7 linked regions of the Homo sapiens genome follow. The protein of the gene in region 5 interacts with the protein of the main gene of each other region in a biochemical or structural test. Each region holds a gene or a part of one and is shown on either strand. Other genes may lie near its edges. The genes, in order: NCOA6, RARA, POU1F1, GABPA, MED1, HNF4A and ESR2.

Region 1 (4,280 bases), on a different chromosome or scaffold from region 5:
AGACATTCCTCAGCATAGAAACCTTGGCTAGATTCATCTTGGTATCTTGCAGAGTTCTAGCCAGTTTCCAGAATACATGGTAGGGCTCAACAAATGTTTGAGAAAATAATACCTATATTTCCTTTCTCGTCCAACCACTCTCTTAGACAACAGCTCCACAATACAAGTAAAAAGAGTTCTTCTACAGTATTTCATAAAGCTGGCCAGCTAATTTTCTATCACCAATGTGGTAATTTCTAATACAGTACTTAATACATAGTAGATGCCTAAATATTCAAGGAGCTAAGCTGAATTTCACCTCATCTTTTAATTTCATTTATCATTCTATTCATTATGATCAAGTATGGCTCATCCTTAGAAATAGGTTTTAGTATTTACTTGCCCACAAACTCATCTGTCAATTTCTGGCCATCCCCCCCACCATCCCAATATGTCATTTACTGGTTTGGGGGAGACAATATTCAATACCTCAATAAAGTAAGAATCAGAAAATTAAATGTCTGCAGGGCCATAAAAATAAAGAGCAAAGCAAGACAGCAAGGCAGACTATGGAGAACTAGGAAACACATCTCACCTAAAAGTTTCAGCTGGTTACCGCTATAAATGAATATGGGCTTGCTGTTGACAGATCTTCCAATTTTTCAAGGTTAAGTCAGAAACTCAGAGGTCTGTGTACATTTTTAAGACATTAAAAATATTGTGTAAACCAAACAAAATACTTATACAGGTCAAATCCAACCACAGGTTGCCAGTTTGCAACCTCTGCTACAGAAGTTCTCTGCAAAAGTGATGGCGTGAGAAGAGTTCTATCCTAGCAGATAATCTAAGGCAGCCCCTAAAACTAAGTAGCTCCTTGGAAGCATCTCCTGCAACACTCAGCCCAACTCTCACCATTCTGATTGACCTGAAAACCAAATTAATTTGGCAATTTAATTGAGCAAAATGAGCCCCTGCTCTGTACCAGGTGCTGAGGAATCAGAAATGAACAGTAGTGCTAAAGTACAGCTAATATTTATTGAGCATGTTCTAGGTGCCAAGCACTGTTTTACACGTTATGTATATTGACTCATTTAATCCTCACAAAACCCTATGAGATTACTATTATCCTTAAAGACTGAGGCGCAATGAGGTTTTATTTGTCCAAGGTCACACAATCAGCAAGCAGCAGTGCTTAATAAGGACCTGAGACAGACTCCACCAAAAAGAGCTCACAATTTGAAAGCAAGCCCCATTCAATAAATGATGCTGGGATCACTGGTTATACATAGGGAAAAAAAATGAAACTGGACCCGACCTTACACTACACATAAGAATCCATTCCAGATACATTAAAGATCTAACCATTGAAAACAACAGTAGGTATTCCAGAATATAAAGAATAATTGCAGGCTGGGCACAGTAGCTCACACCTGTAATCCCAGCACTTTGTGGACTGCTTGAGCTCAGGAGTTCCAGACTAGCCTGGGCAACATGGCGAAACCCCGCCTCTACAAAAAATGCAAAAAGTAGCAGGGCATGGTGGCGCATGCCTGTGGTCTCAACTGGCATGGGAGGTGGGAGGGTTGCTTGAGCCCAGGAGGTTGAGGCTGCAGTGAGCCGAGATCGCACCACTGCACTCCAGCCTCGGTGACAGAGCGAGACCCTGCCTCAAAACAAAGAATAACTGCAAATCTTAAAGGAAAAGATTGATAAAGTTGATACTAAAATTCAGAACTTTTTAACAAATGACACCTTAAAACAGATGTTTTAAAATAAGCAACAGGCCAGGCGCAGTGGCTCACACCTGTAATCCCAGCACTTTAGGAGGCCAAGACGGGTGGATCACTTGAGGTCAGGAGTTTGAGACCAGCCTGGCCAACATGATGAAACCCCATCCCTACTAAAAACACAAAAATCAGCCAGGTGTGGTGGCACATGCCTGTAGTCCCAGCTACTTGGGAGGCTGAGGCAAGAGAATCACTTGAACCTGGGAGACGGAGGTTACAATGAGCTGAGATGGCACGACTGCACTCCAGCCTGGGCGACAGAGCAAGACTTCATCTCAAAAAAAAAAAAAAAAAAATTAAAATAAGCAAGAAACTGGGAAATGACATCTGTAATATCTACCAACAACAAAGGATTAATAATCAGAATATATAAATAAATCTTTTGTAAAAGACAACCCAATAAAAAAAATGGCAAAACAAGCCCGAGCATTATCTAATCCGTGTAAAGCTGGCACTACCACAGTTACCACACAGTACACTCCAGAACAATAGACCTTGCCATCACTGACTGATATAAATATTCAGGGGTCTGTGTTATGCTGCAGGTACACAGAGCATGGGTAATCCAGCCCAAAGGGCAGAGCCAAGACGTTTATTCATTCTCTATCATCATATAGACATTGGATGGCAAATTAGAGGTTGAACATCCAACACTCAAACACATAGATCAGGGGTTGGCAAATGTTTTTGTAAAGAGTATTTCCAGCTTTGTGAGCTGACACAACACATCTCTGTCACGACTACTCAACTCTGCTATTGGTACCACAAAAGAAGATATGGACAATATATAAATAAATGAGTGTGGCTATGTTCCAATAAAACGTTATTTACAAAAACAGATCGTGGGCCAGATTTGACCTATGGACCACAGTCTGTCGACCTCTGACATAGATAGTTGTGCTTTTTCTACACTATAGGTAGGACACTTCCCATGTTTTCCCCTGTCTTTTATGTCTGCTGACACCTCTGATTTCCTTAACCAAAAACTACACCACACTTGACAGCTTTGCAATGGTTTCCAAAACTCTATTACTCTGCCAAAAAAACCTTTTCGCCCTTATTATCAATGAGAATTCTCCCCTCATTTTCCTTTCACTTTTTTTTTTTTTTTTGAGACGGAGTCACGCTCTGTTGCCTGGGCTGGAGTGCAGTGGTGCGATCTCGGCTCACTGCAAGCTCCGCCTCCCGGGTTCACACCATTCTCCTGCCTCAGCCTCCCGAGTAGCTGCGACTACAGGCGCCCGCCACCACGCCCGGCTAATTTTTTGTATTTTTAGTAGAGATGGGGTTTCACCATGTTAGCCAGGATGGTCTCGATCTCCTGACCTCGTGATCCGCCCGCCTCGGCCTCCCAAAGTGCTGGGATTACAGGCGTGAGCCAACACGCCCAGACTTCCTTTCACTTTTTTAAACCTCTTTGACAGACACCACCCCAAACCAGAAATTTAAAAAACTCCCCCTAAGCCACTCACAATGTCAATAATCAACACCTGCAAATTCTAACTCCACTCAATGCCCACAGCCTCTGCCTTAGTTCAGATCCTCATTACTTCTAACTCTGCTCAGTGCCCACAGTCTCTGCCTTAGTTCAGATCCTCATTACTTCTAACTCTGCTCAGTGCCCACAGTCTCTGCCTTAGTTCAGATCCTCATTACCTCTCTGGTCTTCAGTCTACCCTCCTTCCAAAGAACATCCATTTATCTCCTAGAAATTAAACCTCCACCACATACTCCCCTTCTCGAAGATCTTGAATGCCTCTCTCAGCTAAGGATTCAGTCCAAACTCCTTAGCAAGGTCCTTCACAACCAGGTTCCTAACATGGTCTTCCTAGTCTCATCTCTGGCCATGCTTTCACACACATTCTATGCTCCAGCCACATTCAGTTATTAATACATTCCCTGAAAACGTGTCTTTACCTGAAAGGCCCTTCTCTCCATTTCACTGGCAAATTCCTGTATCTTTTAGGACACATCTCAAATGTCACCCCTTCGCAACACCTTCCCTGATTCTTTGAGCAGACACACCCATCTCCGTGTCCTTATAGCGTTTAATAACTCTTCTTTGGCATCGACCATCCTGAACTATGATTGTTCACATGTCTACTTCACTCATGGGGCTGCATACCCAAAGTGAAGTGACTCTGCCTTAAAAACTTCTGAAGCTACAGAGCCCAGTATAATGCTTGATATGCAGTAGATGCCTTGAGGCACAGTAAACGTTTGCTGAATGGAAGACATGCCTGGCAGTAGGAGTAGGGTTTCTTAACCTGGGGTTCATAGACAGGAGTCTATAGATAGGACTTCAGTGGGGCTTGTGAACTTGGACAGGGAGAAAAAAATCTCTTTTACTAACTTTTAACTGAAAATTACCATTCTATTCAAATATGAGTGTAGGTAACATACCATTCTAGTATTAGCAGTTCTGTGACTCTGTAACAACAGAAATCTCAAATATCTTTATATCATACTACAATTGTTGCATATAATCTTGAAGTAGCCTTTATGCGCATCATG
Region 2 (4,280 bases), 900 kb from region 5:
CTGGCAGGCATGGCCTATTCTTGCCTCCAGGCTTCTCTCTTTACAGAAGCCTACATCTCCTGCTCTCATTTTTTAGTTTTTTTCCCCATGATATCTGCAGGTGGCTAGTGAAATCCCTGGTTTTGGGGAGCAAGGGACTAACATAATTGAGGCTGGGGCACTATTTTGTCTTCCCTCCAGTTGGGCCAGGATGAAGGAGACTGTCACAAACTTCCCCAAGCCAATTCCTTCTGCCCTCAAAAGACCAGTCAGTGGAGCCAGGCCCTGCCCTTTGGGTGCCCACAATGTGGTTGGCACTGATTTGTCAGAAATTGGGAAGGTTTCCCTCTAGACCGCTTGCCTCCTTTCTCCTCCTCCCGCAGGGTAGGGGCAGCTCTGTGATTGCAGGCACTTATGGGCAGGCCTCCCCCTAGGAAAGGGGTGTGGGATGCCCCCAGGATGGCCAAGTTGGCGCTAGCCCCAGGCTGGAGTGCTGGACATGATTCTGACCTGGGAGTTAGTGGGGGTAAGGCAGGGCATGGGCCTCCCTGCCCCCCTCATTTCCTGCTCTTTGGGCAGCTGTGGGCGAGAAAGGCTGCAGGGACTATTTTTAGTTGGTCAGTCCCCTGGCAGGAGGGACGTGCAGAAAAGCACGGGGCAGGCAGAGGGGCTGGCCAAGGTGAGGGTAAGCAGGCAGGCAGAGGAGTGAGGAAGGGCCAGAGGGGCAGAAGACAGCAAGGAGGCATGGGGAGCAGGGGCAGGACCTTACCCAGAGGGGCATGACCCAGGTAGATGGGCCGGGCTGGACTGGGTGGAAGAGTCCTGGCACCCTACAGGGTTTTCTTTATCCAGCTGGACTCAGAGCTGGAAGGGGTTTTAGAGGCTACCTAGGCAATCCCTTCCCCTTGCAGAGAAGGAAACTGAGGCCTAGAGAGAACACTCAATCAGTCATTGGCTGTGTTGAGACCTGAACCCAGGCCCTCCCTTTGCACCATTTTTCTGTTGTCATGGTTCCTCACCACAGCTCAGTGTGCTTCCCTTCCCTACTGCAGCAAGGAGGACCACGAGCCAGGCACACCTGGTCCATTTTCCCATCTGCTTTTTTGTGCAGGGTCTCTGAAAATCCCAGCTTGGTTTGTTTATAAGTCTCCATGTGGAAAGAGTCTGTGTCCAGGCTAGAAGGAGGTCAGAGTTGGGTTTGTTTGGGTGGCCTGTGGCCACTGGTGTGAATGGAGCTGCTGGACAGGCTCCAGCAGGCTCACAGGCTGGTGAGCTGTGGGGCTAGGAGACACCTTACAGAAGGGACGTCCAGACTCCCCAGAGCCCTTTGTGAGCCCTCCTCCTGCCCTGCCCAGGACCTGTGGGTCATGGTGGTTGTTTGCCCATCTCCCCAACAAAAGAAGGGAGCAGGGCTGAGGAGTGGGGAGATTACTACTGGCTTCTGATCGCTAGTCAGAAGGAGGCCCCCTCTGAGGCCTGGAGGCAGGGAAAGTTGGGGCAAGTTGGGGTGTGTATGGGGAGAAAACTCAATGGAGAATTGTGGTCCCTCAGAATTCAGTCTGCTTTCTGTCTTCTGCCTCAGGCTCTCCCCACAGGCCACCATGCTGCACAGCTGCAGGGGGAACCATTCCATAGACTATGATGTGAATGGCACCCCCTGGGGTTGTTCAAGGCCCTGCCTGTGTAGCCACACGTGGTGCATCTGTCTCCCACCTTCTTCCTTCAAATTAGTTCAGACCCACCTGGAAGGAGGTGTTCCAGACAGGCCTTAATCCAACACCCTCTCCCCTACCCTGCCTCATGCCACTCAACATCTCCTATTCCTCTGCTGCCCACCCCCAACGCACCAAGCAAGTCATGGTGCACCACCAATTGTGGTTCAGAAGCCCCTCCCCTTCTCTCTACGCAGTTTCTGTGTCTCTTGGGGGCTGATTTATCATACCCCCCATCAAGCCTACTGCAGTGTGTGAGAAATCAATAGTGCAAATGGATTGAGGCTGTTTAGCCTGTCAACTCTCCTTGGGCCCCACCAACTCTTCTGGGACTTGCGGAGTTGCTCAGTCCCCTTCTGGCTCAACATACACATATTTAGTGGTTGTAGCCAGAGCACTGAGCACAGGAATTATTCTTTCTGTTGGTCTCTGTCTCATTCTCTCTCATATACTAGGCTGGTCTTAACATGACAAATACTCTTGAACATTTATTTTCTAGCTTGGGTGGACGGGCTTAAAGGGCAGTAGGCTGCCAGCCAGAGGTAGGGAGGGAGGCAGGTGGGTGAGGGATATGGCGGGTGGAGGGGTGGGGTGGGGGTGGGGACGAGCTGGGGAAGGGATTGGGTGACAGCCCACCCCATCAGCTCTGGTAACTCAATCCCTGCACCCCACCCTCCCAATTTCCCTCCTGCTCAACAACTTCAGCAGCTGCTGGCAGAAGCAAGGCTGGCAGAAGTGTGTTTGAGTGCATGTGTATATGAGGGGAGAGGGTGAGAGGGGCTGTGGGGGCAGGGAGTGCTGCCAGGACATGTTAAAGGAGACTCACAGCCTGGGTACAACTTGGGTGGCAGGAGGAGGTGGGGCAGGTGGGAGAGTGGGTGGTGAGTGATGGGCAGGCTGCAGTGGGGGCAGGGCAGCACAGGGGTCTCACAAAACTTGTTGGCACTGGAGCGGGGCCTGGTGTGGTGGGGGTGGGCAGTGGTGAGGGGGCAGGGGCTGGCACAGACATTGCTGGCCCCAGAATGCTGAGGCCCATTCTTTGCCAGGGGGCGCATGTAACCATGGAGGGACAGTCTGCCCCTGTCTGCAATCCTTGGGCTGTGCCTGCTGGGCATCACAGTCTTGGTGGTGACTAAGTCACTTCTGTCCTGGGGCTGGCAAGGTGCCAGGCTCAGCTCTTCTCGGTAGGTGAGTCACTGCCCTGGCATCTCCCCCGGATGCAGCTGAGTCACCCAGCCATGCCTGCTAGGCAGGTGGGCACCAGGCTTGTGGTGGGGGTGGAGGGCTATGTGTGCAGCCCCCAGTGTCTTCTCTGATCTCTCTCTGGCATGTCCTGGCCCCACCCATAAACCTGCAGAGCCAGGCAAGGATGGCGCTTCTCCCTTGTGATCCACTAAGGGGTGAAGGAAAAGGTAGCAGGGCACAGAGTGGAGTCATACATGTTTGATTTGGAGTAAGTAGGGGAGGAAAGAGTTGAGGAGGGAACATTGATTGGGTTATATGTATATATATATATATATATATGCTTATATGTGTATATATATATATATATATATATATATATATATATATATACACACACACACACACACACACACGTATATATTTATTTATTTTAACAAAAAAGACACAGGGTCTTGCTATGTTGCCCAGACAGGTCTTGAACTCCTGGAGTCAAGCAACTCCTGGCGTCCCATCTTGGCCTCCCAAAGTGCTAGAATTAAAGGTGTGAGCCACCATACCTGGCCTGGGTTTGAATCCCAGCCCTGCCATTGACAAGCTGTATGACGTTGAGGAAGGCAATTTTCTTTTTGAGCCTCAGTTTTTTCATCTCTACAATGGCAACAGGAGCCTGCCCCTTCAGGACTGTGAGAATCAAATGGAGTGGGACTATTAAGGTACTTGTGGGAGGAGCTCCTTTTGGGATGAGCTAGGAGGCTTGGGAGGGGAAGAGGAGTCAGCTGGAGCTGGTTCCAACAAACTCCCGCACCATGGTCTTGGAGGGCCAATTGCTTCTCATCATCTCTTCGGAGTATCACTTAATGCTGTTCTTCAGGAGTTTCCACAGGCTGTGAGAAGACAGCCTTGTTGTACTAGAAGTGTGGGCCCTCCTAGGGTGTCTCAGAGCTATATTTTATCTCTTTTGACTACTGAGAACTGCCACTGGCCCTGGTACCTGTCCAGACTCTCTTCCTTCACTTCCTCTAGTTTGAAGAGGGATGGGGCTCAGACTCCTCCCCCAGCCTATCTCCTGTGTGCAGGGAAACAGTAGGCCCCAAGGAGTGTCCTTCTTAGAGTGAGGCGCCCCGAGCCTGTGGCTTTTCTCTCTCTGCTAGTTTCCTGCTGCTCCCTGGGTACCCTTCTCTCCTCCTGCATCAGAGTCCCTGGTGGGAGGGGGTGGTGGAAGCCCTGTTATGAGCCCAGCATAGCTGGAGTTCAACTGCTGCTGCAGATTGAAGACTCCTGGTCCCCCACCTGGGGACCTCTCCTGCCTTCTGCAGTCAAGCTTGGGTAGGGCTGGGCCTTGGACAGGTGGTACTGGTTTCCCTGGACAGGAAGGAAATGCCCCAAAGATGTGCATGCTTTGTG
Region 3 (4,767 bases), on a different chromosome or scaffold from region 5:
CCCCGTGAAGGGGTGACTGACCAATTTAGACCTTGGCCCTTTGGGAGTTGCAGAATGCTTGTTGGTTCTGTTCAATGCAGACATTGCAACTCGCCGACTAGAAGAATAGTCCTTTAAAATTCTTGTGTTGCATGGTATTATAAAGCAGTCTGTATGAATGAATACAGAAATTCACTCTTGAACAGCGTATTTTTGCTTATTTGTCTAACAAATTTGTTTCATCAAAGTGGAAATGGCAGAGCAAGTAGCCTTTTATTAGATACAATCATAAAAATCTCACTGCATTCAGAGTGCTATTAAAAACCTGTAACAATATATGATCTATTTATTTTGATGTTGAAACCATGAGGTTGTTAGTTGTCTGCATATACACAATTGATACAACCATTCTAATGATAAAGCTGGTCAAAAAATGAGTTCATTCATTGAGTGACTTAATATCCATAAAGCCATAAAGCCGTACATAAACATAACCGTTCATAAATGGTTATATGCTTCAGGAAATCAATGTGTATTTTGGAAGTAAACTGGAATTATTAGACTTTTATCAAGTTTTAAACACAAATCATCAAGTTGATAGGGAGCACAAAATATTGACAATAAAACCAATATTTCCTTATATATTTTATTTTCTCAATTTTTTCCTTCATATTCTGAATATATTGGTTAATTTTCATAAATTAATTTTCTTGAATAAATGAGATATTATAAAGTATGGTTAGAATCCTTTGAGAATACCAATATACAAACTAGTGATTAAAGACATGCCTTTCTTCATAAAGTAAAATAAATTATTTTAAAATAGAGAAAAATCTTTAATTTTTAAAAATCTGTATACATTTTTATTTTATAATTAATAGCTCAAAAGAACTAAAGTCATTTTGCAATATAATGATTACATATAATGCATTACTGTGCATTCCAAAATTAAGCAAATTATCATTAAACATATTTAATACTCAAGTGTTCCCATTAAAGTCAGTGTTTCTATAATAGTTCCTTAGACAATTAGATGTATATGATTCAAATTTCATTAAAAAATTATAAATCAATGCTATTATCATTTAAAACATTTGTAGGTCACTTTTATTAATTATAATTCTTTTTTAATTTTAAGGCTTAAATAATTTTTGCTTTTCAGATTTTAGGAAGTTAAATACAGGATAGGCTAATTTACTAAATAAATTGTTACTTATTTTAAAGTAAATAAATGGCATTTTGAGTATAAAATTAGATTTTACTAGATTATTACCTCGATTCTGAATTGTATTTTCATGCTGGCCAAATTATCTTCAAACACAGAAATAGTGTATTATTCTCATTATTCTCAATCTATAGGATGACCTACTATTTAAAATATGTGATTAGCTATGTGGTAATTGCTTAGATTTATTTATAGCATATATTTTTGATAAAAACTATTGTGTCTTCCAAAAATTATGTTGGAGGATACTTCCTGTATTACCCTTTAAATTAAATTACAGAAATCTTTGGCGGATTCCTGAAATTTAATTTAAAAGGTAATATTGAAAAATCTCTACATTAAATGATTTTACCAAAGTCTAAATATCTGACCTCTAGATTCTTTAAAATCCACCAGAAGATTGGTGCCAAACTTACGCATGTATTTAGAAAATGCTTAATAATAACAAAAGATAGAGCTTAAATCCTTCAAATCAGAATAATGTATCAACTCAAACTTTGATTTCTAAATGTATATAATTTCATTCCTAAATATGAGAAAAATTGCATTTAAAACAAGTGGAAAGTGAATATTATATTGCTATTCAATGGAAGAAATTTACCCAATTCAAGTCTTTCTCCATTTGTAAATCAACTCTAAAACACTTTGTTACTGCATAAAGAATGAACACACTGGCAAAACATATGTATTTGGCTGATTGTGTTGAGCCTGTGAATTCTTAGGTTTAATTTTTGTTCTAAAAAGTTATGTGAGATAAATGTTAAAACTTAGAAGTGAAGTAAGTCTCTTCAGAATGCAATTTTGAGAAAATTTACCTTAGTTAATGGGCTTTAAATGTCATGTTATTTCTTGCTATAATTTCTGTATCTTATGCTAAAATATGTTAATTAAAACTCTATTTTATTCTATGAAATCCATTGTTGTTGATATTCAGATTGTTCTGTTGTGTTTAATATAAGGTTTATAGCTGTTTTTAGATAGTAAATGTAATTTAACAACCGAATAAACCTTTAAGATAAAGAAGTAGCACCTTTTAAATATTGTTATTTTATAATATTCATTTCATTTGCTCCTTATTCTATAAATATTTCCATTAAAAAGGTTTTTAGATTTAAAATGTCCAAGTTCATTCTTTTCTTATGTAGAAAACAGATTTTCTTCCTTACAACAAAGCCAACAGTGATTTTAAATTACTACACTTACTAATATTTCTTTAAAATTTATTTGGCATGTTGGCTTTTTAGATATGCTTAATGCTTACTTCACTTAAGACAAATTAAATTGGAGGGGTAAAATGAAAGATGCAAAGAGATTATTAACTATCAAGATTCAAAGCATTCATTCTGAAATATTTAGGCCCGGTCATATGTAAACTGTCATAGGAGTCAGTACCTGTAGACATCACATTGGTGGCATGGTTGGAGACTGGTAGACACTCGGCAGCACTGTGATGCATTATCAGAGGCAGAGTTGCAGAGGCGTCAGAATTCAGAGGTATAAAGGTATCAGCCGAAGTAAAAGCTTGGCAACTCATTCCCACAAGAGAGTAGAAAAATAAGGAGAACCGCTGCTCCCCAAATCAGAGTTTTATTATATTACTGTCTCAAAGGGCCGATTCAATTCTCACTACCTGCATATATACATCAGGAAGGCTCTGAGGCACCAGGAGGGTGCGCGCTAGTATTTATACTGCAAGGAAATCCCTTTATACATGTTAATAGTCTTTTCCCAGGAGTATTGCTTTATCAATCTGAACCGTCTTCCTTTTTTACCCCAAACATAATCCATGGCAGAGAAGGAAGCTGATTCTGGGGTATAGATGGAGGGGAAGGGAGAAATCTGAAACCTTATTTGACAACTTCAGTAGTTCAGACCTTTTAGAGAGGAATCAACAATTTTGAAAACACGTCCCTCAAAAAAATAATGCCACAATCAATTGAAAAATAGTAGGTATCTTTTTGCTACTAACACAATTGCAAATGTATAAATATGAGATTTTTTTAAACAACTTCTCATTAAATCTGCGATAAAACATGAAACAAAAGAAGTGCATAGTATTATACATAATTTTAAGAAACAATATTTAAGATTATGAGAGAAGCATATAATACTAAACATGAGAAAATATGTTGTCAATTAATGATTCATACTCAAAAATGCACAGCTTTTAAAAACGATGACAACCAATATAAGTTTTACTATATTATAAGTGAAAAATGGAAAAAAATTGGATAAAATGTAGTAATGATAGGTTGGTGCAAAAGTGATTGCATTAATGGCAAGAACCGCAACCACTACTGCACCAAAGTTAAATACAACTAAGATATGGGTAATTGTTATCTTTACCTCGATTTCAATTCACTCAAGAACCCAATATTTAGTAAGCTGTTACTAGATGCTGACAGTATTCTAGGTATTTATACAGTTACGTCATGCAAATCTCACAACATCTATGTGAGTTATGTACCTTGCCATTCTCACTAAGCTAGACTCTGTGCCACAAAGCCTGAGATAACCATGGTAGTTGCTAACTAGATGCAAACTTCTCACACAAAATATATTGACTTTATATGAGAATGAAAAAAATAATATGCTACAGCCAACTATTTCAAAGATAAATAACAGCATCAAAACTTTACAATGATCATGATTTATGAGTATGTAATGAGTAAATAAAATACTATTTATGTATTGTATATTAAGGTAATATAGCAAATAGAAGTAAGCGAACAGGAATAGATATTATTGATGTGAGTAGACACTAATTTTGTACTACGGAATGTTTTAAGATAATTTGGAATTGGTTGCTTTGTATCAAATTTCATGTTAATATTGATAAGACATTTTCAAAAACTTGAACACTTTGTCAGTAAGCAGCTGATATTTTGAAGGAAAATATGTAAAAGCTTGCCTAAATCATTAGATATGGAATGAAAATATTTATTCTAAAAATGACATATTTTTTCATTCTGAATTCTATATCTTTGAAGCTTTATTAGTCTTTTCTAATGAGAGAAAGTTTCAAGTAATCAAAAGCATTATTATACCCTTGCAGAATTCTGATCATTTTCAGACTTCACATATACAAAAAGGTGATTTTCAGTATGTCTATTTGGAGTTTCTGTTAAGAAAATTAAATAAAAGTGTGTTTATTGGGTATCATGTATGTTAAAAATTAAGCTAAATGATATTTATAGAAAATGTAATTTGAAAATGTCCCTTAATAATTTTACTATTGTTATATAAAGTCATTGGAATATGTTGGTAAAGTATGTGAAAAATATACTTTATGAAGTATACTGAAGATACTTTATGAAGTACCATAAAACCTGCCTAGCAAACAATATAAAATTTTCCCAGTTATTTACCATGATATCTAAAAAGTTTTAAATTGCAATCGTAGAATTTCTTCCATAATCATTTTTAAAAATTAAACACCTGTTCTGTTAAAATGAGGTAAAGCCAGGAAATAAATGTTTCCATTACAGTCTTCTACGATACAATATATCTATAGGATTATCTGGAATGTACCCCTTTAAGATAGATTCTTAGAAGTAGAATTA
Region 4 (4,280 bases), on a different chromosome or scaffold from region 5:
CGACATGTGTGGCTCTCTTAATAAGGCTTTCAACGAACAGAAATTCCTAATTTAAATATAGTCCAGTTTATTGATCTTTCCCTTTAGAATTAGTCCTTTTGATTCTGTTTAAATGTCTCCCTACCACCAGAAGTTATGAAAGTATTTCTAGATCCTTTTCTATTTTACTTTTTACATGTAGAGCTACAAGCTACATGGAATTGATTTTTGGTACGGCATAAGCAAGAGGTCAACTTTTACTTTTCCCCAGAGATGGAGAGTAAATTATCCCAGCACTGATTATTGAAAAGCAGGTCGTTTCCTCATATGTTTTCTCCCCACTGCCATTTCTTTAAATCAAATGCTTACATATTCCTGGTTCTATTTTGGCTCCCTATTCTACTGTATGGCCTATTTGTCTTGAGAAAATAGCATAACTGTCTTATTACTGTAACTTTAGAGTCAGTCTCAATATCCTGTGGGACAAGTCTTTCCACTTTGCTAATCTTCAGGTGTCCTGACTACCATGGTACTTTATAGTCCCATGTAAATTTTACAATTATCTTCTCAAGTTCTATGAAAAACTTAGTTTGATTTTTCAAATTAAACTAAGTTGCTGCACTGAAACTTAGATCAATCTGGGGGGGAACTGACATCTTAATTATTAACTCTAACAATTTACCTGTAATTTTGAGGGGACTTGTATGTATACAATCTGTATCAACTCTCAAAAATGGCAGCTTTAATTATGATTATAAACGAAGAATCTTTAGACAGTTGGCAATGTGTTTGAGACTGAATGGTAAAGGATAAGCATTTTGAAAACTAAACATTTTAGTTACTCATGAACTCTGAGAAAAAAAGGGTCATTCAGGAAAAGAAAAATAATCACAGCCAACTATGTAATAATAGTTACATGGCCGTAATACTGTAACAATGAATACTCGCTGAACCAAAATTTCCATATAATTATATTGGGATACTGAGATGAAGGGATGGAAAGGGGAAGGGAGAGTGTGTGTGTGTGAGCTAAATTATAATCTTTCAGTGTGAAAATGGCCAAGTGAAACATGAAGAAGCAGTAAAAGCATGCTATTTAGAAAAACTCGTGAATTGCAGAACTATTTTACTATATTCAATCTCCCAAAAAATCAGACATAATTCCGTGATATTCTTATATATCCTTCTTCTCAGATACTTAAATGTACCTGTTGAATTTCCATCACTGTAGTAGGCATAATTTCTGATAGTAATTTCTGTCAAAAAACCTTATACTACTTACGGAGAGTTTGTATCAATGTAAAGATTGGATATCCAGATTTAGGCAGATTGTGTAGAAAATGGGTCAATATTCTGCTTGTAATTGTAAAAACAGAGGACAGTTTCTGCTTACTCATTAAAAACTAACACTCAATTCATCTATGCAAATAATAAAAACCTCAAAAATTAAACATTTTTTTTTGGGACAGAGTATTATAGCTTTCAAATCAGATAAAAACAAACAATCTTAGAGTAATTTTGTAAAAAAAAAACTGTACCTCGAAATTATTAAGATCTTTTTAAAAAGGTTTTTTAATATGTAAAGAAAAAAACATAAACAAGTTTTTAATATCATTACATAACAATGCTTATTACATCTAGAATAAGAAACTATTTTTTAGAAAGTTTCTATTTTTGATAACAGAAAAAAAAGTAATAAAGGCTTACCTTAATGCACGACTGAGTTTCTCATAGTTCATCGTAGGCTTATTTTTACGCTGTCCCCATTTCTGTGCAACCAGTTCAGGCTGATTTAGCTTAAATTCACCTTCATCACCAACCCAAGAAATGCAGTCTCGAGCGTCCTTATCAGTAAGAAGTTCTAGCAAAAACTGCCATAGTTGGATTTGGCCATTGTTTCCTAAATTGGTAAGAGGAACAAAGCATTAGCTATAGTGTTATAGATTAGCCCAAGGCAAAGACAACAAACTGGTCCCGTGGTTTAAATCTCAGCCATGGCAAAAACAATTTTTGTTTTTCTAGAAATGCTGTCTAAAAACTGCCAGAGGGATAGTCCAAATTCACATTTTTCATACAGTAAAATACAACAAAATATACCTAATTAGATAGATATATTTTATAAATACAAGAAAATACAAAAATACCTGTTCTGTTCCCAGGTGAGCTTCTATCTTCTCCTGAAATCCTCGGCGCTCTTTGTACTTTGGCTGCTTTCGCACTACTATTTATAACTTTAATGGTAGTAGGTGTAGCAGATTGCACTGATGCTGGAATAATTTGCACAGCTGCAAAGACAGACAAGGAGAAATTTTTTTTCTTCCAATACAAGCAGGAAAAAAAAAAAATTACTGAAAGACATTATCACTTTAACTAATGCCCTATGAATTACCCCCAAGAAAGTACTTCACTACAGAAAGCCTCAATCCACAATTTCAAACAAAATAACAAAAAAGTTCAGATGGTAAAGTATAACGCTTGCATTATAGTTTGTGCATCTTAGTAAGAGCTAGTATTCTTGTTTGGAAATAACTTAGTGATGCATACACATTAGACAAAGAGTATTTAAACATGTTTGTTCTTAAAACATTTGTTCATAAAAACGGTTTGTCAAATATATTGTACTAAATGTGGACAAATGAGAATTCACACCACCACTTTGAGAATCTGGCAATATCTGGAGTAAGGCTGAAAGGATAGAAACCCTATGACACGAACATCTCACACATGTTCTTACAAATATTCATTCAATGATGTTTTCACAGCATTTAAAAGATACAGCAGTGAAAATGAATGAAACAGCTGCAAGTATCAACATGAGTAATTCTCAAATGATAAAAAAGTTATAAAATAATATGTACAATGTATTATTTTACAAACAATGTTTAAACATGTGGAAAACAATGCTATACAGTGTTTACGATTACATAGTTGGTAAAAATATAAAATATGCAGACAGTAATAAACATAAAATTCAAGATAGTTCTCTGGTAGGAGAGAGGAAAATGAAACCTACAACAGGTATACTTGGTGTAAAAAATTTTATTTCTAATGATGTACACAGGTGTTAGTTATACTTTCTTTGTGTATCTCAAATTCCTCATTAAAAATTTTAGCCGGTTGGGATGATCTTGTGACGTGTGTGTTCGTACCTCAGGTAAAACATAGCTAAAAGCTTATGGCATAAGCGGAAAAGAAAGATGCATGCTGAAAAGGGGGGAAAAATGCCCCAAAAGAGCTCAGCAGGCTTAAAAGTATTCTCAAACTAGACAGTAATGTTTTAATGAAAGATGTTTAAGAGACAGCAACTGTGGTGGTACCCAAACCCAAACATGCCAAGAGAAAATGCAACATGAGGTAAAAGATGGAAAAGATGACATGAAAATGGAGATGGATATTAAGAGAAACAAAAAGACTCTTCTAGACTGTACTTCTAGCAAGTACAGTACCCAATATAGATGAATCAAAGGTAAAGAATAAAGCTGAAGGCAAAGCGAGAGAAAAGAAAGGGGAAAAGCCAAGCAAAAGTAGTGGAGGCGGCGAAGGGTTTGCCCTGGTAGACTCTTCAAGCCTTGGAAAATGCCACATGGGACAGATGATCCATTAGAATGTATACAACTGTATACTTTGATTGCAACTCCCACCAAATGAAAACTATTTGTTTTCCTATTTTAACTTGGCCTTTTTTCTTCATTTCAAACCCATTGTAACTCCTCAAGTTTGTTTTGGACACTTGAATATTTTCTCTGCTGTATCCAACCTATACTGATATTTCAATTGGATGCTACCTAATATCCAGTTATTATCAGGCATGAAAGTTCTGTCAGGTATGAATGTGGTTAGAATTGTTCTTACAACTTGGTAATTAACAGTCAGTAAAGATGAAACAAATGATGTCCTAACAAATTTTGGTGAACTGAGATACAAAGCAAGCTGTTATGTTAATCGTATCATTTAAAAACACATGAGTGGATCTTATAAAGTACTTGTGTCGAGCTTTCATTCCACAGAACAAAAGATATTTTGTGTGTAGAAAAAAAATTTTTTTAAATAATTTTCCTTTTTATTACCTTGCGGTATCAAATAAACATTTCTTATTAATAAAAGGGCAAATATAGGTACAAATACTCACGTTGATCAATTGTAACTATTTCATTCATCTGTTGTTCTTGACTTGCCAATACATCTGAAAAAAACAAAAATTTTTTGTTTTTATTTAAAACCAAAAATATAAAAACCCCAATCCAATAAAACTCAACTTAATAAACATGGTTCTTTTAAAAAGAACTCCACAATTAAAACCA
Region 5 (4,280 bases):
TGGTGGTATCCGTCTGTCATTCTAGCTACTTGAGAGGCTGAGGCAGGAGAATCACTTGAACCTGGGAATCGGAGGTTGCGGTGAGCCAAGATTGCGCCACTGTTCTTTAGCCTGGGTGATAGAGTGAGATTCTGTCTCAAAACAAACAAACTAACTAAATAAATAAAAATATAAAAATTAGCCAGGTGTGGTGGCAGGTGCCTATAATCCCAGCTACTCAGGAGGCTGAGGCGGGAGAATTGCTTGAACCTGGGAGGCGGAGGCTGCAGTGAGCCGAGATTGTGCCACTCCACTCCAGCCTGGTAGACAGAGCAAGATGCCATCTCAAAACAAACAAAAAGCCAACTTAATTGTTACGTGATAGTTAAGCCAGTATGCATCCCAGAACCATTAATATGTAATTTTTTGAGATTTTTCTACAGCTGGGTCTGGCAGCCTATTTTTGTAAATAAATTTTATTGGAACACTGCTGTTCATTTACATGTCTGTGGCAGATTTCTAGTTAATATTGCAGAGTAGGTGAACAGGAAACAAGACCTACAAAGCCTAACGGATTACTATATGGCCTTATAAGAAAAATTTGCGGCCGGGTGCGGGGGTCACCCCTGTAATCCTAGCACTTTGGGAGGCTGAGGCGGGTAAATCACGAGGTCAGGAGTTCAAGACCAGCCTGGCCAAGATGGTGAAACCCCATCTCTACTAAAAATACAAAAATTAGCTGGGCGTGGTGGCGGGCTTCTGTAATCCCAGCTACTTGGGAGGCTGAGGCAGAGAATTGCTTGAACCTGGGAGGCGGAAGTTGCGGTAAGCCAAGATCATGCCACTGCACTCCAGCCTGGATAACAGAGCGAGACTCTGTCTCAAAGAAAAAAAAAAAAAAAAAAAGAAAAATTTGCTGGCTGGGTGTGGTGGCTCACGCCTATAATCCCAGCACTTTGGGAGGTGGGTGGATCGCCTGAGGTCAGGAGTTCGAGACCAGCCTGACTGACATGGAGAAACCCTGTCTCTACTAAAAATACAGAATTAGCTGGGCGTGATGGCGCATGGCTGTAATCCCAGCTACTCGAGAGGCTGAGGCAGGAGAATCACTTGAACCTGGGAGGTGGAGGTTGCAGTGAGCCAAGATCGCGCCATTGCACTCCAGCCTGGGCAACAAGAGCAAAACTCCGTCTCAAAAAAAAAAAAAAAAAGAAAAAAAAATTTGCTGACATATGTTCTAGAGCAAAACGTTTGCAAACTGAGGTTTATGAATATAAATTTATCTGGAAAATAAAAAGTGCTTTGCTTTAAAATAAACAAGATTTATAACAGAAATAGCACTTTTTATAATAGTGTAGGTTTGGGATGATCTAAGTCATTAAGGTTTAGTACTTAATGGGTCAAGAGATTTTTCTTTTCTTTTTTTTTTTTTTGAGATGGAGTCTTGTACTGTCACCTGGGCTGGAGTGCCATGGCACAATCTCAGCTCACTGCAACCTCTGCTTCCCGGGTTCAAGCAATTCTGCCTCAGCCTCCCAAGTAGTTGGGATTACAGGCACCTGCCACCATGCCCAGCTAATTTTTTGTATTTTTTCTTTTTTTTAGTAGAGATGGGGTTTCACTATGTTGGCCAGGCTGGTCTCAAAACTCCTGACCCTGTGATCCACCCGCCTCGGCCTCCCAAAGTGCTGGGATTACAGGCGTGAGCCACTCTGACCGGCGGAGATTTTTCTAATGGTTCCTTAATTAAAATAAATTATGTATCCCTGTAATTACCATATGAAGCCCCCCAGAGGACGACATTTTCTTTTTTCCTTTGAAATGAAGTCTTGCACTGTCACCAAGGCTGGCGTGCAATGGGACGATCTTGGCTCGCTGCGATCTCTGCCTCCTGGGTTCAAGTGATTCTCCTGTCTACCCTTCCTGAGTAGCTGGGATTACAGCTGTGCACCGCCACGGCTGGCTAATTTTTTGTATTTTTAGTAGAGACAGGGTTTCACCCCGCTGGCCAGGCTGGTCTCAAACTCCTGACCCGAAGTGATCCACCCTCCTCGGCCTTCCAAAGTGCTGGGATTGCAGGAGTGAGCCACCGCGCCCGACCTAAGGAGGCATTTTTTTTTTTGAGACGGAGTCTCACTCTGTTGCCAAGCTGGAGTGCAGTGGTGTGATCTCAGTGCAATGCAACCTCCGCCTCCCTTGTTCAAGCAATTCTCCTGCCTCAACCTCCCGAGTAGCTGGGATTACAGGCACGCGCCACCACGCCCAGCTAATTTTTGTATTTTTAGTAGAGACGGGGTTTCACCATGTTGGCCAGGATGGTGTCGATCTCCTGACCTCATGTTCCAGCCGCCTTGGCCTCCCAAAGTGCTGGGATTACAGGCGTGAGCCACTGTGCCCGGCCCCTAAGGAGGCATTTTCTTACTGAGTTCCATTATTACCAATTTTCTTTTAGTTAAGTTTGAAATTCAATTATTTGGACTCTTGTTTATAGTTTGCTTTTGTTGTGTGATTCATAAGAGGTTGACAATTTTATGTTGGGTTAGATTTTTAGAATGTATTTACCCAAAGCTCTGGTATTTGATAGAACTATTTTTGTCTTACAGATTATTTGCCCTACCTGAAAACTGCTTACTGCAAAACTCTGATGTTATATCTAAATCTCAGGTCTCATTCAGCAGCTATTGCAATGTTAACTTTGTTTTCTTCTTTATTTTGCAGATGTATGTCCATCCCTGTGACGATGAGGGCTATTCGGAGGAAAGCTGAAACCATTCAAGCCGACACCCCAGCACTGTCCCTCATTGCAGAGACAGTTGAAGACATGGTGAAAAAGAACCTGCCCCCGGCTAGCAGCCCAGGGTATGGCATGACCACAGGCAACAACCCAATGAGTGGTACCACTACACCAACCAACACCTTTCCGGGGGGTCCCATTACCACCTTGTTTAATATGAGCATGAGCATCAAAGATCGGCATGAGTCGGTGGGCCATGGGGAGGACTTCAGCAAGGTGTCTCAGAACCCAATTCTTACCAGTTTGTTGCAAATCACAGGGAACGGGGGGTCTACCATTGGCTCGAGTCCGACCCCTCCTCATCACACGCCGCCACCTGTCTCTTCGATGGCCGGCAACACCAAGAACCACCCGATGCTCATGAACCTTCTTAAAGATAATCCTGCCCAGGATTTCTCAACCCTTTATGGAAGCAGCCCTTTAGAAAGGCAGAACTCCTCTTCCGGCTCACCCCGCATGGAAATATGCTCGGGGAGCAACAAGACCAAGAAAAAGAAGTCATCAAGATTACCACCTGAGAAACCAAAGCACCAGACTGAAGATGACTTTCAGAGGGAGCTATTTTCAATGGATGTTGACTCACAGAACCCTATCTTTGATGTCAACATGACAGCTGACACGCTGGATACGCCACACATCACTCCAGCTCCAAGCCAGTGTAGCACTCCCCCAACAACTTACCCACAACCAGTACCTCACCCCCAACCCAGTATTCAAAGGATGGTCCGACTATCCAGTTCAGACAGCATTGGCCCAGATGTAACTGACATCCTTTCAGACATTGCAGAAGAAGCTTCTAAACTTCCCAGCACTAGTGATGATTGCCCAGCCATTGGCACCCCTCTTCGAGATTCTTCAAGCTCTGGGCATTCTCAGAGTACCCTGTTTGACTCTGATGTCTTTCAAACTAACAATAATGAAAATCCATACACTGATCCAGCTGATCTTATTGCAGATGCTGCTGGAAGCCCCAGTAGTGACTCTCCTACCAATCATTTTTTTCATGATGGAGTAGATTTCAATCCTGATTTATTGAACAGCCAGAGCCAAAGTGGTTTTGGAGAAGAATATTTTGATGAAAGCAGCCAAAGTGGGGATAATGATGATTTCAAAGGATTTGCATCTCAGGCACTAAATACTTTGGGGGTGCCAATGCTTGGAGGTGATAATGGGGAGACCAAGTTTAAGGGCAATAACCAAGCCGACACAGTTGATTTCAGTATTATTTCAGTAGCCGGCAAAGCTTTAGCTCCTGCAGATCTTATGGAGCATCACAGTGGTAGTCAGGGTCCTTTACTGACCACTGGGGACTTAGGGAAAGAAAAGACTCAAAAGAGGGTAAAGGAAGGCAATGGCACCAGTAATAGTACTCTCTCGGGGCCCGGATTAGACAGCAAACCAGGGAAGCGCAGTCGGACCCCTTCTAATGATGGGAAAAGCAAAGATAAGCCTCCAAAGCGGAAGAAGGCAGACACTGAGGGAAAGTCTCCATCTCATAGTTCTTCTA
Region 6 (4,280 bases), on a different chromosome or scaffold from region 5:
TGGGGAAGAGTGTTCCCAGCTGAGGGAACAGCATATGAAAAGGCCTGGAGCCTGGCCACACACTGCTCTGATTTTACTTATATTTGACTGCAATTAATTCCATCCTTTACTGAAAGTATCTTGAGACTTGTCTGGTTGTTTCATGATTGATTAATCTTATTCCTAAAAGCATGCTGAGGCTGGGCATGGTGGCTTATTGTGGATTACACGCCTGTAATCCCAGCACTTTGGGAGGCTAAGGCGGGTGGATCACTTGAGGTCAGGAGTTCCAGACCAGCCTAGTCAACATGGTGAAACCCTGTCTCTACTAAGCATACAAAAATTAGCTGGACGTGGTGCCAGGCGCCTGTAATCCCAGCTACTCGGGAGGCTGAGGCAGGAGAATCACTTGAACGCAGGTGGTGGAGGTTGCAGTGAGCCGAGGTTGTACCACTGCACTCCAACCTGGGCAACAGAGGGAAACTTGTCTTAAAAAAAAAAAAAAAAAAAAAAAGCATGCTGAGATGCTTAAGTGAAGGAATTGTGCCTTCCATTTTTCCTGACTCATATGCCTGTAGCATAAGGATGGGTCAATGATAACGAAAGGAATTTGTTTTCATTTAAGCCCCTTTTATGTAATGGGCAAGATGTTGGCTATTTGATATGTTTTCTCCCTTTTAAGCCTTGCAATAACCCATCCAAGTAGGAAATATTATCTCCATTTTATAAACAAAGAAATTGAGATTCAGAGTTGTTAAGTCACGTTTCCCTGCATCGCCTTGCAAATAGGTGATTAAAATCTAGTCTGACACCAAATCTTCATTCTTTCAGCTATTATGTCATAATAGCATCCAAGGAGTTTACCACCTTCTACCACCTACTAGCTGTGTGACCTTGAGTGAATGACTCAATTCTCTTTTTTTTTTTTTTTTGAGACGGAGTCTTGCTCTGCTGCCCAGGCTGGAGTGCAATGGTATGATCCTGGCTCACTGCAACCTCTGCCTCCTGGGTTCAAACAATTCTCCTGCCTCAGCCTCCTGAGTAGCTGGGATTGTAGCTGGGGTTACAAGCGCCTGCCACCATGCCTGGCTAATTTTTTTTTATTTTTAGTAGAGATGGGGTTTCACCATGTTCGCCAGGCTAGTTTTGAACTCCTGACCTCAAGTGATCTGCCCGCCTCGGCCTCCCAAAGTGCTGGGATTACAGGCCTGAGCCACTGCGCCCGGCCGACCCAATCTTTTTTGCCTCAGTTTCCTCATCTGTCAAATGGGGTTGATGATAATACCATTTACTTCACAGGGTTGTTGTGAGACATAAAGTCAATATTTGTAAAGTGCTGAGTGTCTAGCACATAGAAAGTGCTATGTGAATTTGAACGATTATTATTATTATACCTATAGTGTGTGCATCTACTATATGCAAAGGACTGGATGCTTACTAGGTGTTAGCATCATTTTGGCTGTTGTAGAAACAACAGAGATGAGTAAGGAATAGATAACTGGTCCCAGGATGCAACTGTCTCTGGCTGGAGACTAAGGACAAGGCTTTGTTGCAAGCCTTCTGGGGCCCTGGGATGCCCAGGGTCTCCTCTTGGGGGTGCTGGTTCATAGATGGGGGCCTGTGTGGCTCCTTCACAGAGGAGGAGGCAGATGAGAGGCATAGAAAGGGAGGGGACAGACCTATCCTCATCAGAGACCTGGGAGATGGCTCTGGCCCTGGCCCTGGGTAGCTGTTTGTGACCTCACTCAAGTCCTTCTCCTGCTGTTTCTCCATCTACTCTTTTTTTTTTTTTTTTTTTTTTGAGACAGAGTCTCAATGTCACCCAGTGGCTCTATCTCTGCTCACTGTAACCTCCACCTCCTGGGTTCAAGCAATTCTCATGCCTCAGCCTCCCAAGTAGCTGGGATTGCACGTGTGTGCCACCACACCTGACAAATTTTTGTAGTCTTGGTAGAGATGGGTTTCACCATGTTGGCTAGGCTGGACTCCTGGCCTCTTGTGATCCTCCCACCTCGGCCTCCCAAAGTGCTGGGATTACAGGTGTAAGCCACAGCACCCAGCCTCCATTTCCTCTTTTGAGAAATGGAGGTATGACAACCATCTGGCTCAGCCATTGTCACACAGTATTCCCTGGGTCCTAAGAGTCAGGAAAGATGCTGCAGGGTTCCCTTTGAGGGTAATGTGGGTAGGGACGTGTTCAAATGGACTAGGGCTTAGCCTCTCCCCACCCTTCAACCTCTGGCTCCATCAGAGACACTTCTTTTTGACTTTTGTATATTTCTTTTTATTTTATTTTAGAGACAGGGGTCTCGCTATGTTGCCCAGGCTAGCCTCAAACTCCTGGGCTCAAGCAATCCTCCCGCCTCAGCCTCCCAGCCCCTGGGATTACCTGCTCATGCCACTGCACCCGGCACTCTGTTTTGACTTTTAAATGAAATATTTAATGGAGGGTCTCCACAGTTCAAAAATATTTGGAAAATCAGAAGACCACACCAGTGTGTTTCAAACTGCAATCTTAACCCAGGAATAGGTCATGCAATTTTTTTTTTATTTTTTTTTTCTAGATGGAGTCTTGCTCTGTCACCCAGGCTGGAGTGCAGCGGCACGATCTTGGCTCACTGCAACCTCCGCCTCCTGGGTTCAAGCAATTCTCTGCCTCAGCTTCCTGAGTAGCTGGGATTACAGGTGCCCACCACCGCGGCCAGCTACTTTTTGTATTTTTACTAGAGACGGACTTTCACCATCTTGGCCAGGCTGGTCTTGAACTCCTGACCTCGTGATCCACCTGCCCCGACCTCCCAAAGTGCTGGGGTTACAGGTGTGAGCCACCGTGCCCAGCCGGTCCTTCAATTTATTGGGATTATATTAGTTCAGACAATATAGCTTATGTAACAAGCAAATGCAGACTTTAAGTTAGAAGTTTATTGACCTCTGTGGCATAGTCATCCAGGGACCCCTAAGGTCACCCTAGCCCAGAAAGACACTTTCACTTCTACTCACATTCCATTGGTGAGAACTAGTCACATGGCCCTTGCCAAATGCAAGGGGGTCTGGAAGATGTGGTCCCTAGCGGGGCGGGACTAGCTGTAAAGTTTGTAAAGGGGAGCGTGAATTAGTTGGTACACAGTTGATCGTCTGTGCAGTAGGGTCATGCTCACACGTCCCTCCACACACACACGTTAAATATGTATAACAAGTGTAAATATACAATTTAAAAAAGTATCTTTTTTTTTTGGTTTGTTTTTGTTTTGTTGTTGTTTTTGAAACAGGGTCTTGCTCTGTCATGTGGGCTACAGTGAGCCACAATCATGGTTCACTGCAGCCTCAACCTCCCAAGCTCAAGCAATCCTTCCATCTAAGCCTCCCAAGTAGCTGGGACCACAGGTGCATGCCACCATGCCCAGCTAATTTTTTATTTTTATTTTTTTGTAGTGACAGGTCTTGCTGTGTTGCACAGGCTGGTTTCCTACTCCTGTCCTCAATCTTCCTGCATCAGCCTCCCAAAATGCCGGGATTACAGGTGTGAGCTACTGCACCTGGCCTTTACAATTTTTTACATAAAATGTTTCAATAAAAAAGTGCATAGATAGATACAGAGATAGCAATAAAGCAAATGTGACAGAATGCAACCAGTTGGTGAATTTAGGCGAAGGGATACATCAGTGCTCACTATACTAGTCTTTCAAACTTTAAAGTTTGAAATTTTTCAAAGTAAAATATTGGAGAAAATGAAATTCTTAAAATTTACTAGACCTATAAGTAGACTAAAACAATAAGTTATAACTAAAGTAAGATTTGGCCGGACGCCGTGGCTCATGCCTGTAATCCCAGCACTTTGGGAGGCTGAGGTGGGTGAATCACTTGACCCCAGGAGTTCAAGACCAGCCTGGGCAATATGGCAAAAACCCACCTCTACAAAAAACACAAAAATTAGCTGGGCCTGGTGGTACACGCCTGTAGTCCCACCTACTCGGGAGGCTGAGGCAAGAGGATTGCTTGAGCCCAAGAGGTGAAGGTTGCTGTGAGCCGAGATTACAACACCACACTCCAGCCTGGGTGACACAGCGTAATCCTAGTGCTTTGGGAGGTCAAGGCAGAAAAATTGCCACCACACCTGGACTTAAAAAATATTTTTACTGAAGTATAACATTCAAAACAGAAAAAGGCACAAATCATCAATGTATCGCTTTATGAAATTTCACATTTTAACAAAAGAATGAAATAAAATAAAATAGAAAATATCATAGAGCATTTCATGTAGTAAGAGTAAGATATGTATGTTTTTGAAACTTTTGTTTTAT
Region 7 (4,280 bases), on a different chromosome or scaffold from region 5:
GAGAAGTCAAAGGTAACTATGATGGGCTTTTTCTATTAACACAAATAGGAAATGAGTGGTTTTGGGAAAGAAAGTGATGAATTACCCCTCAGATATTGTATTAATTGTCTATTACTGTGGCCGGGCATGGTAGCTCATGCCTGTAATCCCAGCACTTTGGGAGGCCGAAACAGGCAGATCACTTGAGGTCAGGAGTTCGAGACCAGCCTGGCCAACACGGTGAAACCCTGTCTCTACTAAAAATACAAAAATTAGTGTGGTGGTGTATGCCTGTAATCCCAGCTACTCAGGAGGCTGAGACATGATAATTGCTTGAACCTGGGAGGCAGAGATTGCAGTGAGCTGATATGGCGCCATTGCACTCCAGCCTAGGCAACAAGAGTGAAACTCCATCTCAAAAAAAAAGATTTGCCTGTAATCAGCCAGCACCCCCAGCCTTGTGCTCACTTTACATACAAAAATTCTGTTTTTTAGAGCATAAATTGAAGGGCACATTCAAAACTGATACGTAGGCCAGGCATGGTGACTTATGCCTGTAATCCCAGCACTTTGGGAGACCGAGGCAGGTGGATCACTCGAGATCAGGAGTTTGAGACCAGCCTGGCCAACGTGGTGAAACCCCATCCCTACTAAAAAATACAACAAATTAGCCAGTCACAGTGGTGCGCACCCATAGTCTCAGCTACTCGTGAGGCTGAGGCAGGAGAATCACTAGAACCTGGGAGGCAGGAGGTTGCAGTGAGCCGAGATCATGCCACTGCACTCCAGCCTGGGTGACAGAGTGAGACCTTGTCTCAAAAACAAAGACAAAACCAAAACAAAACAAAACTGAGAAGCAACAGATTGATAAGTGACACAGTTACACTGGTCAGTCTCTTCAGCTAATACCCATTGTTTTTTATTATTGGAGATTCATAATGTGTTTTCTTTCTTTTAAAAACTTTTTTCGGAAATGGTAATTTCTCTCTTTTTTTTTTTTTTTTTTTTTTTTTGAGACAGGGTCTCACTCTATCACCCAGGCTGGAGCGCGGTGGCACAATCTCTGCTCACTACAACCTCTGCCTCCTGGGCTTGAGCAATCACACCTCAGCCTCTTGAGTAGCTGGGACAACAGGCACATGCCACCATTCCTGGCTAATTTTTAGTAGAGACGGGGTTTCACCATGTTGCCCAGGCTGGTCTCGAACTCCTGACCTCAAGTAATCTGCCCACCTCAGCCTCCCAAAGTATTGGGATTACAGGCGTGAGCCACTACGCTTGGCCTCATAGCGTATTTTAATATTGGTTGAGACTAGCCTTGCTCATTGATCTTCTCTTAGCGTTTACTTGGTTATTCTTGCTTATTTTTCCATAAGAACTTTCATTTTTATTTAATCCTGTGTTTTTTGGTTTTAAAGACTATTTTATAATAAATTTTCGTGATTAAACTCTTGTGCTTAAACTCTTGATTAAACAAACAAGCAATGAAGAGATGAATGAAGCAGAAAATGTGAGTTTCATGCCTCACATTCCCACTCCTCTGAGGTTAATATTTTCATGTATATTTTTCAGGATGTATTTGTAATCTCATACAAACGTATGTATTTTTTTAATGAAAATATTTAAATTTTCATAGTTAACAGCTGTAGCTCTAACTTGGCAATATCTTCTGTGTTTCTTTACAGCCATTATACTTGCCCACGAATCTTTGAGAACATTATAATGACCTTTGTGCCTCTTCTTGCAAGGTGTTTTCTCAGCTGTTATCTCAAGACATGGATATAAAAAACTCACCATCTAGCCTTAATTCTCCTTCCTCCTACAACTGCAGTCAATCCATCTTACCCCTGGAGCACGGCTCCATATACATACCTTCCTCCTATGTAGACAGCCACCATGAATATCCAGCCATGACATTCTATAGCCCTGCTGTGATGAATTACAGCATTCCCAGCAATGTCACTAACTTGGAAGGTGGGCCTGGTCGGCAGACCACAAGCCCAAATGTGTTGTGGCCAACACCTGGGCACCTTTCTCCTTTAGTGGTCCATCGCCAGTTATCACATCTGTATGCGGAACCTCAAAAGAGTCCCTGGTGTGAAGCAAGATCGCTAGAACACACCTTACCTGTAAACAGGTAAGTCCAGTCTTCATTCTGAATTATAGTTGCTAGCCATTTCTCAAATCACTTTATGGTTGAGTGAGAAGGAAATAATATGTTAGACAAGGTCTTTATTGTATTAATTACATAGTTTACTTACAGCACCCAAAACACAGGATGCCCTGTTCTATTCTGATATTTTAGTTCTCATTAAAAACTGGTATGTGTACATCAGTGTTGTGGGGAGAATTTGCTATCATGACTATTGTCTTTATACAGTAAATACTGAACTTAAGTCACTCCTTTTCTTTTTTTGAGACAGGGTCTCGCTCTGTCACTCAGACTGGAGTATAATGGCACGATTGCGGCTCACTGCAACCTTCACCTCCTGGGTTCAAGCAATTCTCGTGCCTTAGTCTCCCGAGTAGCTGGGATTACAGGCGCGTGCCACCACGCCCAGCTCATTTTTTAAATTTTTAGTAGAGACAGGGTTTCACCATGTTGGCTAGGCTGGTCTTGAACTCCTGACCTCAAATGATCCACCTGCCTTGGCCTCCCAAAGTGCTGGGATTACAGACGTGATGAACACTGTGCCTGGTCTGAACTTAAGTCACTCTTAATGGAGTTATTTGGATTTGAAAAATGAATTTTTACTTTACTTTCAGTTTCAAAGTCTTCTTATAGTGAAACCACAATTTAATGTTCATGACAAATTGTTTCCAGGATAAAAGTAACTGTGATAGTATTACAACTTAAATGAAATTCTAGACATGCGAAGCATGAAAAGATAGATGATTGGTATAAGCTTTTTAACCATGAACTAAAATAATAACATTATATAAAGATTGGTGGAAACTATTGAAGTTTAGGCTTCAGTTGACATTCCCTGAAGTTAAAAAGGATATGTGTACTCTTTAAATGCAAGGTAACATAATGGATTATTTCCATCTAATTATTAATATTTCTAATGATAATCATAGGTATGAAGGGAATGGATAGTATAATGAGAAAGGAGAGGGGGAGATAAAAATCTAAAAGTACTAAGGGCATGTTGGATATTGAAATTCACTACTTTCAAATATTATCATAAAACTTTGAGACAGTAACATTGCACCATTATTTTTCTTCTTTTAAAAACATTTTACTCATTGGTAAAGAGAATATAAACATTGTGGATAACTTTTTTAAAGTAATGGTTTGTTTTTTTTTTCTCCTTCCTCCTTTAAAGGAAGACATATTTTGTTTCTGAGCATGAATTATAATCAAAGTTCTGCTAATTTTTGGGCAAATTAATCCATTATATAATTACCTTCATTTATAAATCAATAATACCTTTACCATTCCCTTTCCAAAAGAACCATGCCTGGCAACATCAGGAACTAGCCAGATGTGTTTTGGAGGCTGCCTGGGGATCCCTTGTTAGACTTTTCGTTCCTTTATGAACCTCTTGCCTGTGGTCCAGCATTGAGCCTCTGCTTCCTTCCAAGCCTTTCCAGGCCAGGCACTTGCTTGTTCTCTCTCTTCTCTTCTCTCTTCTTTTTTCTCTCTCCCTTTCTCTTCTCTTCCCCCTTTTTCTTGTCTCACATTCATCTCAAGGTAACTTAAAGTCCATTTGTTATTCCTCTTAAAGTTATTTTTATTTTATTTTTTTGAGATGGAGTCTCACTCTGTTGCCCAGGCTGGAGTGCAGTGGCACAGTCTTGGCTCACTGCAACCTCTGCCTCCCGGGTTCAAGCAATCTCCTGCTTCATCCTCCAAAGTAGCTGGGATTACAGGTGTGCACCACCATGTCTGGCTAATTTTTGTATTTTTAGTAGAGATAGGGTTTCACCTTGTTGGCCAAGCTGGTCTCGAACTTCTGGCCTCAGGTGATACGCCCACCTTGGCTCCCCAATGTGCTAGGATTACAGGCATGAACCATTGCGCCCAACCTGAAAGTTATTTTAAATCTAGACCTTTATCTGAAATTGCAGAGTGTGAGATGTTTGTTCTCCATTTAAATGGGAACTTCAAATGTCTGAAGGGCTGCTTAGCAATGCTGTTGGGAATGACTGATGTTTGGAAGTGGTTGAATGCCTTCACACCCATCCATGCAGCATTCGTGAACTCTAGTAACTACAGAAGACCAATGCATATCCTGCCTGTGGTTCAGACCTGTGGGTAAGATTTGATCTGGCCACTCCTTTCATTACACTTAGAG

What was found.
Region 1: the proteins of MED1 (region 5) and NCOA6 form a complex in vitro, tested with the Homo sapiens proteins (one study listed by BioGRID).
Region 2: the proteins of MED1 (region 5) and RARA are reported together in a solved structure, tested with the Homo sapiens proteins (2 studies listed by BioGRID, with this or other methods).
Region 3: the proteins of MED1 (region 5) and POU1F1 form a complex in vitro, tested with the Homo sapiens proteins (one study listed by BioGRID).
Region 4: the proteins of MED1 (region 5) and GABPA form a complex in vitro, tested with the Homo sapiens proteins (one study listed by BioGRID).
Region 6: the proteins of MED1 (region 5) and HNF4A form a complex in vitro, tested with the Homo sapiens proteins (2 studies listed by BioGRID).
Region 7: the proteins of MED1 (region 5) and ESR2 form a complex in vitro, tested with the Homo sapiens proteins (2 studies listed by BioGRID).

Annotation. Positions count from the first base shown.
Region 1 is NC_000020.11:34,818,728-34,823,007, forward strand, and holds part of NCOA6 (nuclear receptor coactivator 6), read right to left. Parts: intron 2,913-4,280; exon of another isoform or gene 575-2,912; intron 1-574. UniProt on the Homo sapiens protein: Nuclear receptor coactivator that directly binds nuclear receptors and stimulates the transcriptional activities in a hormone-dependent fashion. Coactivates expression in an agonist- and AF2-dependent manner.
Region 2 is NC_000017.11:40,311,907-40,316,186, forward strand, and holds part of RARA (retinoic acid receptor alpha), read left to right. Parts: intron 1-3,286; exon of another isoform or gene 3,287-4,280. UniProt on the Homo sapiens protein: Receptor for retinoic acid. Retinoic acid receptors bind as heterodimers to their target response elements in response to their ligands, all-trans or 9-cis retinoic acid, and regulate gene expression in various biological processes.
Region 3 is NC_000003.12:87,273,725-87,278,491, forward strand, and holds the start of POU1F1 (pituitary-specific positive transcription factor 1), read right to left. Parts: upstream 2,861-4,767; 5' UTR 2,739-2,860; coding exon 2,597-2,738; intron 1-2,596. UniProt on the Homo sapiens protein: Transcription factor involved in the specification of the lactotrope, somatotrope, and thyrotrope phenotypes in the developing anterior pituitary. Specifically binds to the consensus sequence 5'-TAAAT-3'. Activates growth hormone and prolactin genes.
Region 4 is NC_000021.9:25,762,194-25,766,473, reverse strand, and holds part of GABPA (GA-binding protein alpha chain), read right to left. Parts: intron 4,163-4,280; coding exon 4,109-4,162; intron 3,836-4,108; exon of another isoform or gene 3,093-3,835; intron 2,265-3,092; coding exon 2,124-2,264; intron 1,880-2,123; coding exon 1,687-1,879; intron 1-1,686.
Region 5 is NC_000017.11:39,409,139-39,413,418, reverse strand, and holds part of MED1 (mediator of RNA polymerase II transcription subunit 1), read left to right. Parts: intron 1-2,697; coding exon 2,698-4,280. UniProt on the Homo sapiens protein: Component of the Mediator complex, a coactivator involved in the regulated transcription of nearly all RNA polymerase II-dependent genes.
Region 6 is NC_000020.11:44,361,949-44,366,228, forward strand, and holds part of HNF4A (hepatocyte nuclear factor 4-alpha), read left to right. Parts: intron 1-4,280. UniProt on the Homo sapiens protein: Transcriptional regulator which controls the expression of hepatic genes during the transition of endodermal cells to hepatic progenitor cells, facilitating the recruitment of RNA pol II to the promoters of target genes. Activates the transcription of CYP2C38.
Region 7 is NC_000014.9:64,280,460-64,284,739, reverse strand, and holds part of ESR2 (estrogen receptor beta), read left to right. Parts: intron 1-1,664; 5' UTR 1,665-1,754; coding exon 1,755-2,116; intron 2,117-4,280.